4 linked regions of the Homo sapiens genome follow. The protein of the gene in region 2 interacts with the protein of the main gene of each other region in a biochemical or structural test. Each region holds a gene or a part of one and is shown on either strand. Other genes may lie near its edges.

Region 1 (3,998 bases), on a different chromosome or scaffold from region 2:
AATTCCAATAGAAATCTAAAGGAAATTAGATTTCTCCCTTTTCTCACATCATAATGTAGTTCCTTGTTTTTGACTTTTACATTGGTGGAACACTATAGTATGTAATCTTTTTGTTGGTCTTGTGGTACCTAACCAAATGGTTTTGATGTTAATTCACCTTATTGCAGACAGTACTTTATTCATTCCCTTTGCTGTAAAAATTCATTATGTGAATATCTGCTTATTTATTAACCTATTATTAATGAAATTATAGATTATTTCCGATTTTAAGATATCATAAACAGTTGAGTGAGTTATTCCAAAACAATCAGTTTGATCATAGCCTACTCTGCATATAATCACATAATATTTCCTCTTAGGTTTGTGAGAAATACCAAAATCCTTAGGTTATCTTGTCCCTTCGTCTTTAGCTGATTCTCCACTGTCATCTCCTGCCTGGCATCTCCTACCCCTTCTTTTACCACCCTGTGATCTATTAAAATTGGTCTATCTGCATTTTCCCAGGACAGTATCACAGAGGACTGGGTGACTAACTATTGGAAATTAACCCTCTGACTCTTAGCTCATTCTACATTCCATTTCCTGTCGTACATTCAAGGTTCAAATTTTCAGGTGAGACACCAGAAGACATGATGTTGGTGGATGGCAAGTGGCACTTCAAGTCCCTCATCGCCATCAGGGGAGACATGGTTGGGTGAAGGTAATTGTTCCCTGCCATGTCAGGAGACATACAGCAAGGTGAATACCCCAAACTTCTCACACCACAGACTGAGATAGTATTATCCTTGGATTACTTACCTCACATGGTTCTAAAAAGCTGTTTTTGCAAAGACAATAATCAAGTTTCTACACATAATTTTTCAACACACCACCAATGATACCTTCAAATATACCCTACAGGTTTTAGAGGAATGCGTGTTCATCACACTTGGAACTATGATGTAATGACAATTCTCTGGGCACAAGCTATCAGCTCACAGTGTCCAGGTAGGACTGGACCTGGTACTCCTGGCCAAGGCTGAATCCTATGTGATGAAACGTCTTCCTTTCTATTCCCTTAGTTAACTCTTTCTCATATTTCTAAACCACATGTTGTGGTACCTTCTCTCTAAAACCTGTCTTGAAACACCCCCAGTTCACATGGAGATATCATTTCTGTGTCCTGCATACAGAGCTCAAATTTTAAAAATAGCACTCAAAACACGGACTAAAAATTTCCTTTTCTGTTTGGGGATCAGGGCAGCCTCAGGAGAATGTAATTTGCAGTAAGTAATTCTAGATGAAATAATGTTTCATAAGTTGATAAAAAATGCCCTTAAAGAGAGCTGTGTTCCATACACACTCACCTGTCTGATAAATGACCGCCTAGGATGCCTCCCACCATCATTCCAGCCATGAATACAAATTTAGCCACTGAAGTCAGTGATTGAGAGTCACATACCAGATCCCACTGGAAGAGAAGGAAGCCAGCACATCAATGCTTATTACCCCTCAGTGTAACTTGATCAAAACTTCTTAGCATGATCTGCAAGTTTCCTAATATTAAGTCTCTAACTTCCTCTGTGGCTTCCTTTCTCAGCATTACCTGACCTTTGTTATTCAGGTCTCAACTTAAACATAACTTTCTCTTGGAAGACTTTCCTAAACCTATAGGTTTTTATTTCATACTAAATGGTTCTCAAACATGACCACATGGTGCAATCACTTGAAGACCTTTAAAAACTTTTAGAAACCTAAATTTCCCTCTTAGACCTTCTCATATGATTGTTTTAGGGTATACTCTGGGCATGGAGGCTTTTCTCAATTTCCCAGATATTTCTAATTTGCAATGACAGGCTGAGCATCACTGACCTAGCAGAACATTTTAACATATTATATATAAATGCTTGTTTAAACTTTGGTCTCCCTGTGACTTAAAGCATTATAATAGCAGGATGCCTTCTACTTTGGAATTCATTACTCAAAATGTGTAGGTGTCAGACATTTAATAAAGAAGCAATTAGTATTTGCTGAAAGAATGAAGACTAAGGACCTACATGTGACTGAAGGCTGGAAGCATGATTATTACTTGTGTTATTCTAAACACCCAGGTCACATACTCATGAGACGAGAACAGAGCCTCTTACCTCAGTCACGATGGTGGATGAGAAGGAGATTCTGTCATACACCCAGCCATCCACACAGGGCTCCATGTCTGCGTCACTTGTGTTGGGGAAGGTCCCATTCAGGTGAAGGAGCTGCCACTGAGGATGAACAAAGCGACGACACTTCTCTGGCCTCATGTTTGAGTCCAGTGGGATGGAGATTCTCAAGAGTGCATCTTGGCTGAGGGCCCCAGTGTCATTGTCAGAGACAGTGTCATTGTCCAGGATGTGGACCCAGCAGCGATGGCCAGGTATGAATGCAGTGAAGTTCTCCAGCATAAAATGAAGGTATGTAGCAACAGCAAAGATTGAGAGAAAAACAGTCTGAAGGATCTGGAATCTCCACAGGTCACCAGCGTGACCCAGGAGGTCCTGAAAGGCCATTGAGGTTGAACAGTTGATCCTCAAGTAGAGGCAAAATGACTGTATCCAGAGAGGTTCAAAGAGGGAAAATGTTTTCTTTCCCTAAGTCACACTAAATGTGTTTTGATCCTGACCCCACTCTCTTCTTGACGACTGTGCTTCCCCTCTGCAGCAGGACCGTGGAAACAGTTTCCTCAAGTCGTTTTGGGGTCAGATAGGTAGCCGTTTTCTCTAAAGTCACGTAAGAAATAATTTGCTCAGATACTCCCAGTCGTTTACAATGAAATGTGTTTAAAATTCTACTTTTTCATGTCTTTAGTAGCTCCCAAAGTCAGCACTGGACTTTGGTCTACACTTTTCTGTAAACAAACTAAAATAAACCTGCTACATGGTATGCGGTCATTCCAGGAAGCATAATTTTGGCGACTCAAAGGTGAGGTGCTTTTTTTACTTCTCTGAAAACAACAGAAGGCAAGTTTTTCCTTGTTAAGTACCAATTTTTGATTAAGAGTTAATCTAAAAAAGTCGAAGTTAAACTAAAATAAGGGTACTGTGGTACAATCCTTTCATTTTGGTGACTGATGTTCTCCTTCATGTCAAATCACACCACAAATTCATGCTGGAAATACATTGCTTGAAATGTGGACAGAATAGATGGTGATGAAAAGCAGAGGAGTAAGCTCATATGGAGGTTTACTTTTACTGGCTTATTGATTTTTCAGATAGTATTTGTGAAGACCTTTTCCATGCTAGTTCCTAAAGTAACGTGTGTGACAAGTTCAAGGATCTTATAGTTGAGTAAGTAAGAGAGAGTACATAAACAATTGCACTCCAACATTATAAATATTATGTGAGATGCACTATGTGCTGTGGAAGAATTGGAGGCAAAATATGGGAGAAAATGTCACCTTGATTAGGACTAAAATTTCTATTAAAATTTAAACCTCCTTGAAGTATAATTCATTTACCATACAATTTACCCTTTTAAAGTATACAATTGAATGTGTTTTGATCATTCAAAGAGTTGTGCAATCATCACTACTATATCGTTACAGAGCATTTTAATCACCACATAGGAAACCATACCCATTAGCAGTAACTCTCCATTTTTATTCACACATCCCACTTAGCAACCGCTAATTTACTTTCTGATTCTAAGGATTTGCCTATTGTGGACATTTGATTTATACATTGAATCATAAAATACTTGACTTTGTATATCTGGCTTAATTCATTTAACATAATGTTTCTTTTTCTTTTTTTTAAATTATACTTCAAGTTTTAGGGTACATGTACACAACGTGCAGGTTTGTTACATATGTATACATGTGCCATATTGGTGTGCTGCACCCATTAACTCATCATTTAGCATTAGGTATATCTCCTAATGCTATCCCTCCCCCCTACCCCCACCTAACAACAGTCCCTGGTGTGTGATGTTCCCCTTCCTGTGTCCATGTGTTCTCATTGTTCAATTCCCACCTATGAGTG
Region 2 (3,500 bases):
TGTACGTGAATGTGTGTAGTGTGCATACGTTGCTAACCCTAAATGAGCCTTGAGTACAGAAACTGCACTTTAATTCTGGGGCCCTCTGGATCGTCTCCTTCAGCTGGGATACCTGGAACCTATAGGGTTACACGTCACAAACCAAGAACAACATGTTCATCATTGACCTTATGGTGCAGAAAGTATCTCTTTATCCACTGAACTTAAATGTCAAAACTGATAAAGAAAAACTTTTGGAAGATATTTATGTGGGAACGCACATCCCCCATTGAATGGCTCATTATAGTTGGGCCTTGAACAACCCAGGGGTTAGGGGCGCCAACTCTCACGCAGTTGAAGATTCATGCATAACTTTTGACTCCCCTAAAACTTAACTACTAGTAGTCTATTGTTGATCAGAAGCTTTACTAATAACATGAACAGTCAATTAACACATATTCTGTATGTTATACGTATAATATACTACATTCTTAGAATAGAATAAGTGAATTCAGGCACAGTGGCTTACACCTGTAATCACAACTAATTGGGAGGCTGAGGCAGGGGCATCACTGGAGCCCAGGAATTTAAGACCAGCCTGGATGACACAGCAAGATCCTATCTCTAAATAAATAAATGAATTAAGAAAGTAAGCTAGAGAATAGAGAATGTTATTGAGAAAATCACAGGGAAGAGAAGATATACTTAGAGCACTGCACTGTATTTATTGACACCATAAGTTTACATCATCTGTTTATGAGATGAATGGTCTGAAATGGTGGCAACCACGCTGCAGACCTCAATCTGTGGTGCACAGCAAACAATTCAGCTTTTTGGCAATGCTGTGATATTCCCGCTTCTTGGGGCACTTGCAACATCCCTTGTGGCACTTCGTGTGGGTCCCGGGGTGTTATTCAAGGTTTACGTTACTGGACTCAACACGAAGGAGGGAAGGTACACAAGAACTCTGAGAGATCACTCGTTACCATGCTCTGCAATTTACTGGAGAGAGAAATTGCTTCCACAGGGATGATTAAGACATTTTACTCAGAAACCCATGTCACACTATGTGCTCCAGTTAACCATGGGCAGGAATGATTGAACGCTGCATCTTTACCTTTGTCTATATTCCTCTCCACTGCAGATGGTGCCAAATTGATTGATTTATATTTTACAGGAGTAAATGATGAAATAGACTAGTATCTACATATATTGTATGAATTCACGACATCTCTAACTTTTTCTTAATGTTTTGATATTTTTAAGCTACACAGTTTGTCTTAAGAGGTTTTTACAATTGTTAAATTGTTTTCAAAAAATTTTCCAACATACTTATAGAAAACAATTGGCATACAAATGAGCCCACGCAGTTCAAGCCCATATTGTTCAAAGGTCAATTGTGTTTCTTTCCTATCACTTGCTATATTTGGGCAGCTGTGTATTATAATAGAAGAACACCAGGTTTTGGAGTCAGATAAAATTTGAGGCCTTTCTTTGCCCAGTATTAGCTGTTTGATCTTGAGCAATTCACTCTCTCAGAGCCTCCACTTTTGAGCTGTGAAATGGAATCGTGATAAAAATGTTGTCATAACTTCACATGACAGAGTGGCCAGCATGCAGGGCTCACATCCCGGATTCACATGAGTTCACTACGTGCTTTCATAAAGACACACGTCCTAAGGCAATGCTGAGCCAGGCCGTACATGTCGATTTGATGTCTGCTTTGCAGCTACCTGGCTTCCTGGCAGGGTCAGCTCTGGCAATATCCAGAACAGCATTTCCAGCCACCCCCACGACTGAAGAAAGCCCACCCCCCACCTAGGACTGCAAGACATCATCTTATTATGTTCCCTTTCCTGAAAAAAACAAAAAGGGTTGTATTCTAAAATTACATATTTTTTCTATTTATATTTATTATGAAACAATTATAGCAACAATAAAGGGAATTTAAAAGATAAACTTATTACTATGTTTTGTCATCTGATTTTTAAAAATATGTCAATAATTATTAATATAACCTTAATAATAGGACAATAATTAATATTCTCTTTCATGCAATGTGAATTTGTACATATAACTGTATAAATTTATAGTAGAATTACTTAAAATATGTTGTAAGATTTTAAAATATTTCTCAATGGTCTTTTGATTATTCTTCAAATATCATTAATTTAAGGAATATCCTTAAACATTCTCATACATATAGCTCTTTGATTCCTCTGAACTCAGTGTTGTAATGGACTCTTCTTTAGATTCAATTCTGAGGAGTGAGACTGCTTGATCAAGCAAGGGATTGTTTTTCCACTGTTTAGCCTCACAAAGAATGTGTTGTAAGTTCTACAAAAGGAAAATTAATTATTCATATATAGCTCATTTCCCCAGATAGTTCCTGTAGCTCCTTTAAAAACAATCACTCAGACCTTGTGGATCGCAGTGTGTTGATACGACTGGAAACCCTGAGCACTGAAGTTCAAGGTCAGCGGCTTGCCGTCAACAGTCAGTCAGCGGCTGGCTAGGCCATCGGGTTTCCTCGTCTGGACCGAGCCTTCGGGTTTCGTCGTCTGGACCGAGCCTTCCGGTTACCTCGTCTGCACGGAGCCTTCGGGTTGCCTCGTCTGCACGGAGCCTTCCGGTTGCCTCGTCTGGACGGAGCCTTCCGGTTGCCTCGTCTGGACGGAGCCTTCCGGTTGCCTCGTCTGGACTGAGCCTTCCGGTTACTACGTCTGGACTGAGCCTTTGGGTTTCCTCGTCTGGACTGAGCCTTTGGGTTTCCTCGTCTGGACTGAGACTTGACCCGGCTTCTTCCCACCTCTGGGACCTGGAACTCCCTATCTTTAGAGCATTTGCTTTAGAAAATGTATTATTGTATGTTCTTTCTCTGCCATTTGATACCTGAATCTTTCTAGAAGTCTCTTGCTGGCTGTACAACCCAGGACTGTCTTTCTCAAGGAGCTGGGAGCTGTCCCTTCAAAATGTGATCACTGGCAAGATGGCGTCATCTCCTGTCCCTGTGGAAGGATGGAGCCCAGCCTTGGTGGGTGCTTGGCTCTAAGCTGTGCAACCACCTCCTGTCATGAAGATGGGGGAAGCTCTCTGTTTCTTTGCAGGAGGCCAATTAACAGACAATGATGGCCCTAATCTCCTTCCCATCCCAACTTGTAGAAACCCTCTCATCCTTTGTTTCAGTGGAGTTGAATCTCTGAATCTCTCTCTCTCTCCTATCATAATAGACTTGAATAAGGTCTTCTTGCCTTCTTCGCCTTTAACTCTGGTGCAGTTTTGTCCTGACATGGCTTTAGGAAAATCATTTAGGAATTCTTCCTCTCAGTGTTGATATTATCCAAACAGGACTACCCCGAAGATCCGTGGAGAACACGTTCTAGAACTCTTAACGGCCACTCGCGACAGGCTCCCGGAACACCACTGCTTCTAGCACGTGGAATAGAGCGGGATTCGGGATGAGCTTTGCAGCCACGTGAGTCTGGGCCCCATCCCTGTCTCTGCTTGGCTTCTGGAAAGTC
Region 3 (3,036 bases), on a different chromosome or scaffold from region 2:
TAGTTTGGTTTGGCTTTCTTTACTGTGGTAGCATTTACCAATTTCTTCAGTTCTGCCTAATCTTAGTTTGCATATAATATTGTCAGCTCTTACAAATATATGTAGATAGTTTTCTAAAATGAAAAAGAAATGGGCTGGTCACAGGAGGTGGGGACTTGGGATGGATGGTTTTAGCAGCATCTGAATGGAGTAGGCAGCTCTTGTATTCCTAATGTACTTTCACACACTGTAGCTTTAAAACAGAAGCAAGTTGCTGTGTTGTTGCCAACCAGATAGCAAAGTGGATAATATTCTTGGTTAACACCAGGGCAAGGTACTTTTTATACTTGGCAGTTTAGTTCTTTTATAAAATCCAGTTTGAAAGGTGTATCAGCAAATTATCTTGAAAAAGCTATCAAATAATTGCCTTATGAATGTAATCAGAACCTCTTTCAATTATAAATCTTTAAGTAAAACATGGAAACAATAATGGAAAAAATAAAGAACTCTTCAGACAGATGTAATTGTATATGATAGTTTTATTGGCATTTTAAACTACTTTGTAGTTGTTAAAGTATTTTACATTCTACTTTCTTTGTAGGGAAAGTTAAGCATAATTCTGATTTTTTTTTAATCTAAAAGTCCCATTTGGCACCCAAAAGTTCCATTTCATATGCATTACTCAGTTATTTACACATAATCCTTCAGATTGTGTGTGGAATTGTTCTCGAGCTGTGTGTTAGAGATAGGCTGCTGTGTGGGTGGGTCGAGTCTAGCTTCTGGATTCCTTTTTATACAGGAGGTGCAGAAAATCATGCCAGAGATAAACAACAGCATTGCAGAAATGAATCCGATATAGATAGCTCCTCCAGGTTCATGTTTGTTGCTTTCTGGAACTGTCAGATCCAGAAAGTTTGCTATGATCTCCTTTGTGTACCACACTGTCGAGATTAAACTAGAGATTCCTGCAGACATGAAACAGACTCCTCCAGCAAAGGAAGCATGGCTCTTGGTTTCTCTGTCCCCTCCTAAGCGAGTACATTTCATTCCTACTGTGGAAGTGCAGATCCCCAAAGCAGACAGAACACACGCCAGGACCATGGTGGCTCTCGCAGCCTGCACGTGGATGGGGAGGGACAGAATGGAGTGTTTCAGGGCACAGCTGAACATCCCAGTGCTGTACCACGTACAGTCCATCCAGAGCCCGTGCAGCTGTACAATGGCTGTTATGATGTTGGAGTCCACATCCACATTCACCTTCCAGTTGGGCAGCAGAGTGGCTGTGAGCACTCCAGAGACCCCAGATAAGGCCAGGATGAAAGCAAGGAGCTGGAGTCCTGCTGAGGCCATGATGTTACTGTTAAGTCTGTCCTCTTAGAAAATCCTGATGTTTAACAATGATGGCTGTCAGAATTCTATCTATTTCTGTGCAGTAGAGAACCAAATAACAAAGCCTAAGGAAAAAAGGCAAAACCAGGATTGAGCGAAAGAAAGTAAGTAAACAAAAGGCTTCCCTTTAGAGTAGGAGCCAAGAACACATCTGAGTATCCCCCTTCTCCAGCCCCCAAGCAGATGAGGATGCTGTAGGCTGGAGGAGAAAAGCTCCCACCAGGCCTTGAAGACTGGTCTGAGTGATATGCATGGGTGGTGTTGATACAGGGCATAAAGAAAGCAGTTGCCCACTTAATTCTTTTTAAAACTCAACATATGCTGAAACTGTAGCGTGGACATGTACGTTGTTAGGAGATTTAGACATTTGAAATTCCAGCTATAGTATCTGATAAAGAATTTTAATAGCATTATAGGTTTTTCAAATGATTTTATTTTTTATTTTTATTTTTTTTGAGATGGAGTCTCACTCTGTCACCCAGGCTGGAGTGCAGTGGAGCGATCTTGGCTCACTGCAAGCTCCACCTCCTGGGTTCACACCATTCTCCTGCCTCAGCCTCCCGAGTAGCTGGGACTACAGGCGCCCGCCACCATGCCCGGCTAATTTTTTTTTTTTTTGTATTTTTAGTAGAGATGGGGTTTCACCCTGTTAGCCAGGATGGTCTCGATCTCCTGACCTCGTGATCCGCCCACCTCGGCCTCCCGAAGTGCTGGGATTACAGGCGTGAGCCACCACGCCTCGCCCAAATGATTTTATTTTTAATGAAAATACTCAATACATAATAAGGAAGAAAATAAATTAAGGCCACCTTTTAAAGATGGTTTATAAATACATTTTAGAAAAGTATTTAGGAAGTGGCTTTCATAAACAGATCTTTATGACACACCCACAGTGCCAGGCACATAGCCCAAGTGAACCATTTGAGGAGGAAGGACAGCAGTGGAAAGAAGTCTGAGTCACTGGCATGGTTATCCCTAAGTTCTAGTTAATACCTGTTTGCAAAATCCTGACTGAGGTTAGTACTTGTTTTACTTCAGGTGCCTGGTACTCAAAACAATTAAGCCACTGTTTTTTGTATATAAGAACATGAGGTCCTTTCTAATTGGGACCAGAATCATTTCCTGGCCCAAATGAAGCCGGCTATTCTGAACAATTCAGAAGTAGTGATGGCAGATCTCAAAAATACATACCAGAAATAACCACATCATTAGTTGTATGTGAAAGGATACCAGAAATAAATTAACCCTTTATTTTCTTTGTTTATTTTTAAGAGGAAGGAAAAGACCACCTACTTTGTGGCTTGGCTGTGTTTTAAGAAACAAAAAGGCTTTCGATTCCATCTTTCTATTCCTGTTCCCCTATCTAGCCCATCTGGCACTGCTTACTGCCTTATTTGAGAAAAATGTAATGGTTTCTGAAATACTGCAGTACTGACTTTCTTTGTCATTCTGAGTTAATTTTGAATGGTATGCTAAAGTGGCTCTGTCGTGATTCATATGTATTTTACAAAAGGTGATACAGGCTCTTGAGTCAAAGACACTTGGGCCAGTTCTTAGCTTTATACCTCTCTGTGCCTCAGTATCCTCTTCTGGAAAATGGGGAGGATTGAAATACTTCGTTCATAGGGTTAAATAAGTTAATACATTTTAAGGGCTTAGACCAATATT
Region 4 (2,438 bases), on a different chromosome or scaffold from region 2:
GCTACTATTCTACCATTATTCTCTGAAACAGCTGGGAAGGGCTCACTCTTCCCTTTTCTCAGGTCACAGTTGACTGTGAAGCTGGCACTCAAGCCCAAGTCTGACCCCAAAGCCCTTGCTCTGAACCGTTACTCTATGATAAGCCCCTCTCTGCTCATAGTAAGCCCCACCATTTGTTAGAGATGGGTAGGAGACCAAAGTTCGCATGTTGTTGTTGTTGTTGTTTTGGTTTTGTTTTTTTTTTTGAGACAGGATCTCGCTGTCACCCAGGTTGGAGTGCATGGGACCATCTTGGCTTACTGCAGCCTTGAACTCCCAGGCTCAAGCAATCCTCCCACCTCAGCCTCCCAAGTAGCTGAAATCACAGGTGCACACCACCATGCCTTGCTAATTTTTCTATTTTTTTGTAGAGACAGGGTCTCAACCACGTTGCCCAGGCTGGCTTCAAACTCCTGGGCCCAAGCAATCCACCTGTCTTGGCCTCCCAAAGTGCTGGGACTACAGGCGTGAGACACCATGCCCAGCCCACATGTTTCTCTTAACAACTTCAAACAGCCCTTCAGTGCACAGTGATGGTGTTCACTTAAGGCCTCTCTCCTACCAGGGACTTTCTCTACTACTCCCTCCACCTCTCTTCAGACACAGGTGCTGTTAACCAGGAAAGCCAGAGACAGAAACTGACTTACCTGGCTGTGAAATAAAGTATGAACCAACCACTGAGTAAATGGACTTTATTCTCTTCATTAAGAACATTATTTTGAATTTGTTCAAATTAATGTCAGCAGCAATGGAATTTTTAATATAATCTAGCACATTCTATCCACAAGATTCACTTGGGCAGTTCAAACACTTAAGGAACATGAGACTGCTGCTACTTGTGTGTTTTCAGGTAGAATGAAATAAACCTTAAATGAAAATGTGGTACTATATGTGTTCTTTAGAAGTCCTGTGGCAGGATTAAAAACTTTACTACACTACAAGAGCCAGCCTGTGGGGGGTGAGATTTCAGATGCCCGTTGACAGACAGCTACTTCTAGGTGCTGGTGGGAGCACAGTTCCTGGTTAATCCTTCTGCTTACATTTTTATTGTGAAAAATGTAAAACATGTACAAAATTTCTATATAATGAGTACAATACAATGAGCTCCCATGAACTCTAAACCCAGCTTCACAATTATCAACTTATGGCAAATCTTGTTTCCTCCATAACCCCTCCAACTCTCCCTTCTCCCCAGTTATTTCGAATCAGATTATATCATTTAATCTGTACTTTAGTATTAAATGGTTTTTAAGTATACTAAAATGTATATAAGAAGATAACTATTAGAGCAGCACTGTACAAGAGAATTTTATGCAACAATGGAAATGTCCAATATAGCAGCCACTTAGCCGCATGTGACTGTGGAACACTTGACATGAGGCTGATGGAAGTGAAAAACCGCATTTTAAATTTTATTCAATTTTAAATAAATAGCCACATTTAATGAGCCAATTGGAGAGCACAGATCTAGAGCAAATTTGGTCAATAACCTTAATAGGAAAGTAGGTATTATGAATCCCTCCATGGGAAGGCAATAAAGACATGAACAATAATTGTTATATTGACCAGGATGAATTTGTAAAATCACTGCAGTAAACATTATCTGGCTGTCTCCTGGTTATATGCAATGTGAGCAACTATAGTGTAACTGAACACTTACTGTAACATGTAGGAATTCTGCACTTCTAGCCACATGCTCCACTGTTCTGATAAAAACCTTGTAGTGGCTTGTATAGTGAGAAATCAAGTGAATGGGAAATACTATTAAAAAATGATGGGACATACCTTAGTCCCTACCTCTTACTGGTTCTTTCAAATTACTACTACAGGCCAGGCACGATGGCTCACACCTGTAATCCCAGCACTTGGGGAGGCTGAGGCGGGCAGGTCACTTGAGGTCAGGAGTTCGAGACCAGCCTGGCCAACATGGTGAAACCCCGTCTCTACTAAAAATACAAAAAAAAAAAAAAAATTAGCTGGACGTGGTGGCAAGCGCCTGTAGTCCCAGGTACTAGGCTGAGGCAGGAGAATCCCTTGAACCTGGGAGGCGTAGGTTGCCGTGAGCTGAGATTGCACCACTGCACTCCAGCCTAGGTGACAAAGCAAGACTCCATCTCAAAAAACAAAACAAATTAATACTACAGTAATTACTACTATAATTAATATTAATACAATTTAAACTGTCCAACACAAGTGTGTGGCAGTTAAGGTGCATACCTTTTGAGAGACTTTTTCAATTTCAAATGTATTGCTCAATATCCAGACTATTAATGTTAAAGAGGAAACTGCAACAGTCCCAAGCCCCTTACTTTCCTGACATAGGTAACAATGTGCTAAATTGGCTGCTTTAATTCTTTGGCATCTTGCTTCAACAACTTAAAAAGAAAAGATTGAAAACC

What was found. The genes of interacting proteins can lie anywhere in the genome.
Region 1: the proteins of SNTG2 (region 2) and SLC22A9 interact in a test that uses a peptide from one of them, tested with the Homo sapiens proteins (one large-scale study listed by IntAct).
Region 3: the proteins of SNTG2 (region 2) and CLDN20 interact in a test that uses a peptide from one of them, tested with the Homo sapiens proteins (one large-scale study listed by IntAct).
Region 4: the proteins of SNTG2 (region 2) and RAB9A interact in a test that uses a peptide from one of them, tested with the Homo sapiens proteins (one large-scale study listed by IntAct).

Annotation. Positions count from the first base shown.
Region 1 is NC_000011.10:63,368,587-63,372,584, reverse strand, and holds the start of SLC22A9 (organic anion transporter 7), read right to left. Parts: upstream 2,801-3,998; 5' UTR 2,529-2,800; coding exon 2,127-2,528; intron 1,451-2,126; coding exon 1,347-1,450; intron 1-1,346. UniProt on the Homo sapiens protein: Sodium-independent organic anion transporter, exhibits high specificity for sulfated conjugates of xenobiotics and steroid hormones such as estrone 3-sulfate (E1S) and dehydroepiandrosterone sulfate (DHEAS).
Region 2 is NC_000002.12:1,261,849-1,265,348, reverse strand, and holds part of SNTG2 (gamma-2-syntrophin), read right to left. Parts: intron 3,455-3,500; exon of another isoform or gene 3,328-3,454; intron 3,014-3,327; exon of another isoform or gene 2,931-3,013; intron 1-2,930. UniProt on the Homo sapiens protein: Adapter protein that binds to and probably organizes the subcellular localization of a variety of proteins. May link various receptors to the actin cytoskeleton and the dystrophin glycoprotein complex.
Region 3 is NC_000006.12:155,274,013-155,277,048, reverse strand, and holds the end of CLDN20 (claudin-20 precursor), read right to left. Parts: intron 1,434-3,036; 5' UTR 1,330-1,433; coding exon 670-1,329; 3' UTR 501-669; downstream 1-500. UniProt on the Homo sapiens protein: Plays a major role in tight junction-specific obliteration of the intercellular space, through calcium-independent cell-adhesion activity.
Region 4 is NC_000023.11:13,706,128-13,708,565, reverse strand, and holds part of RAB9A (ras-related protein Rab-9A), read right to left. Parts: intron 1-2,438. UniProt on the Homo sapiens protein: The small GTPases Rab are key regulators of intracellular membrane trafficking, from the formation of transport vesicles to their fusion with membranes.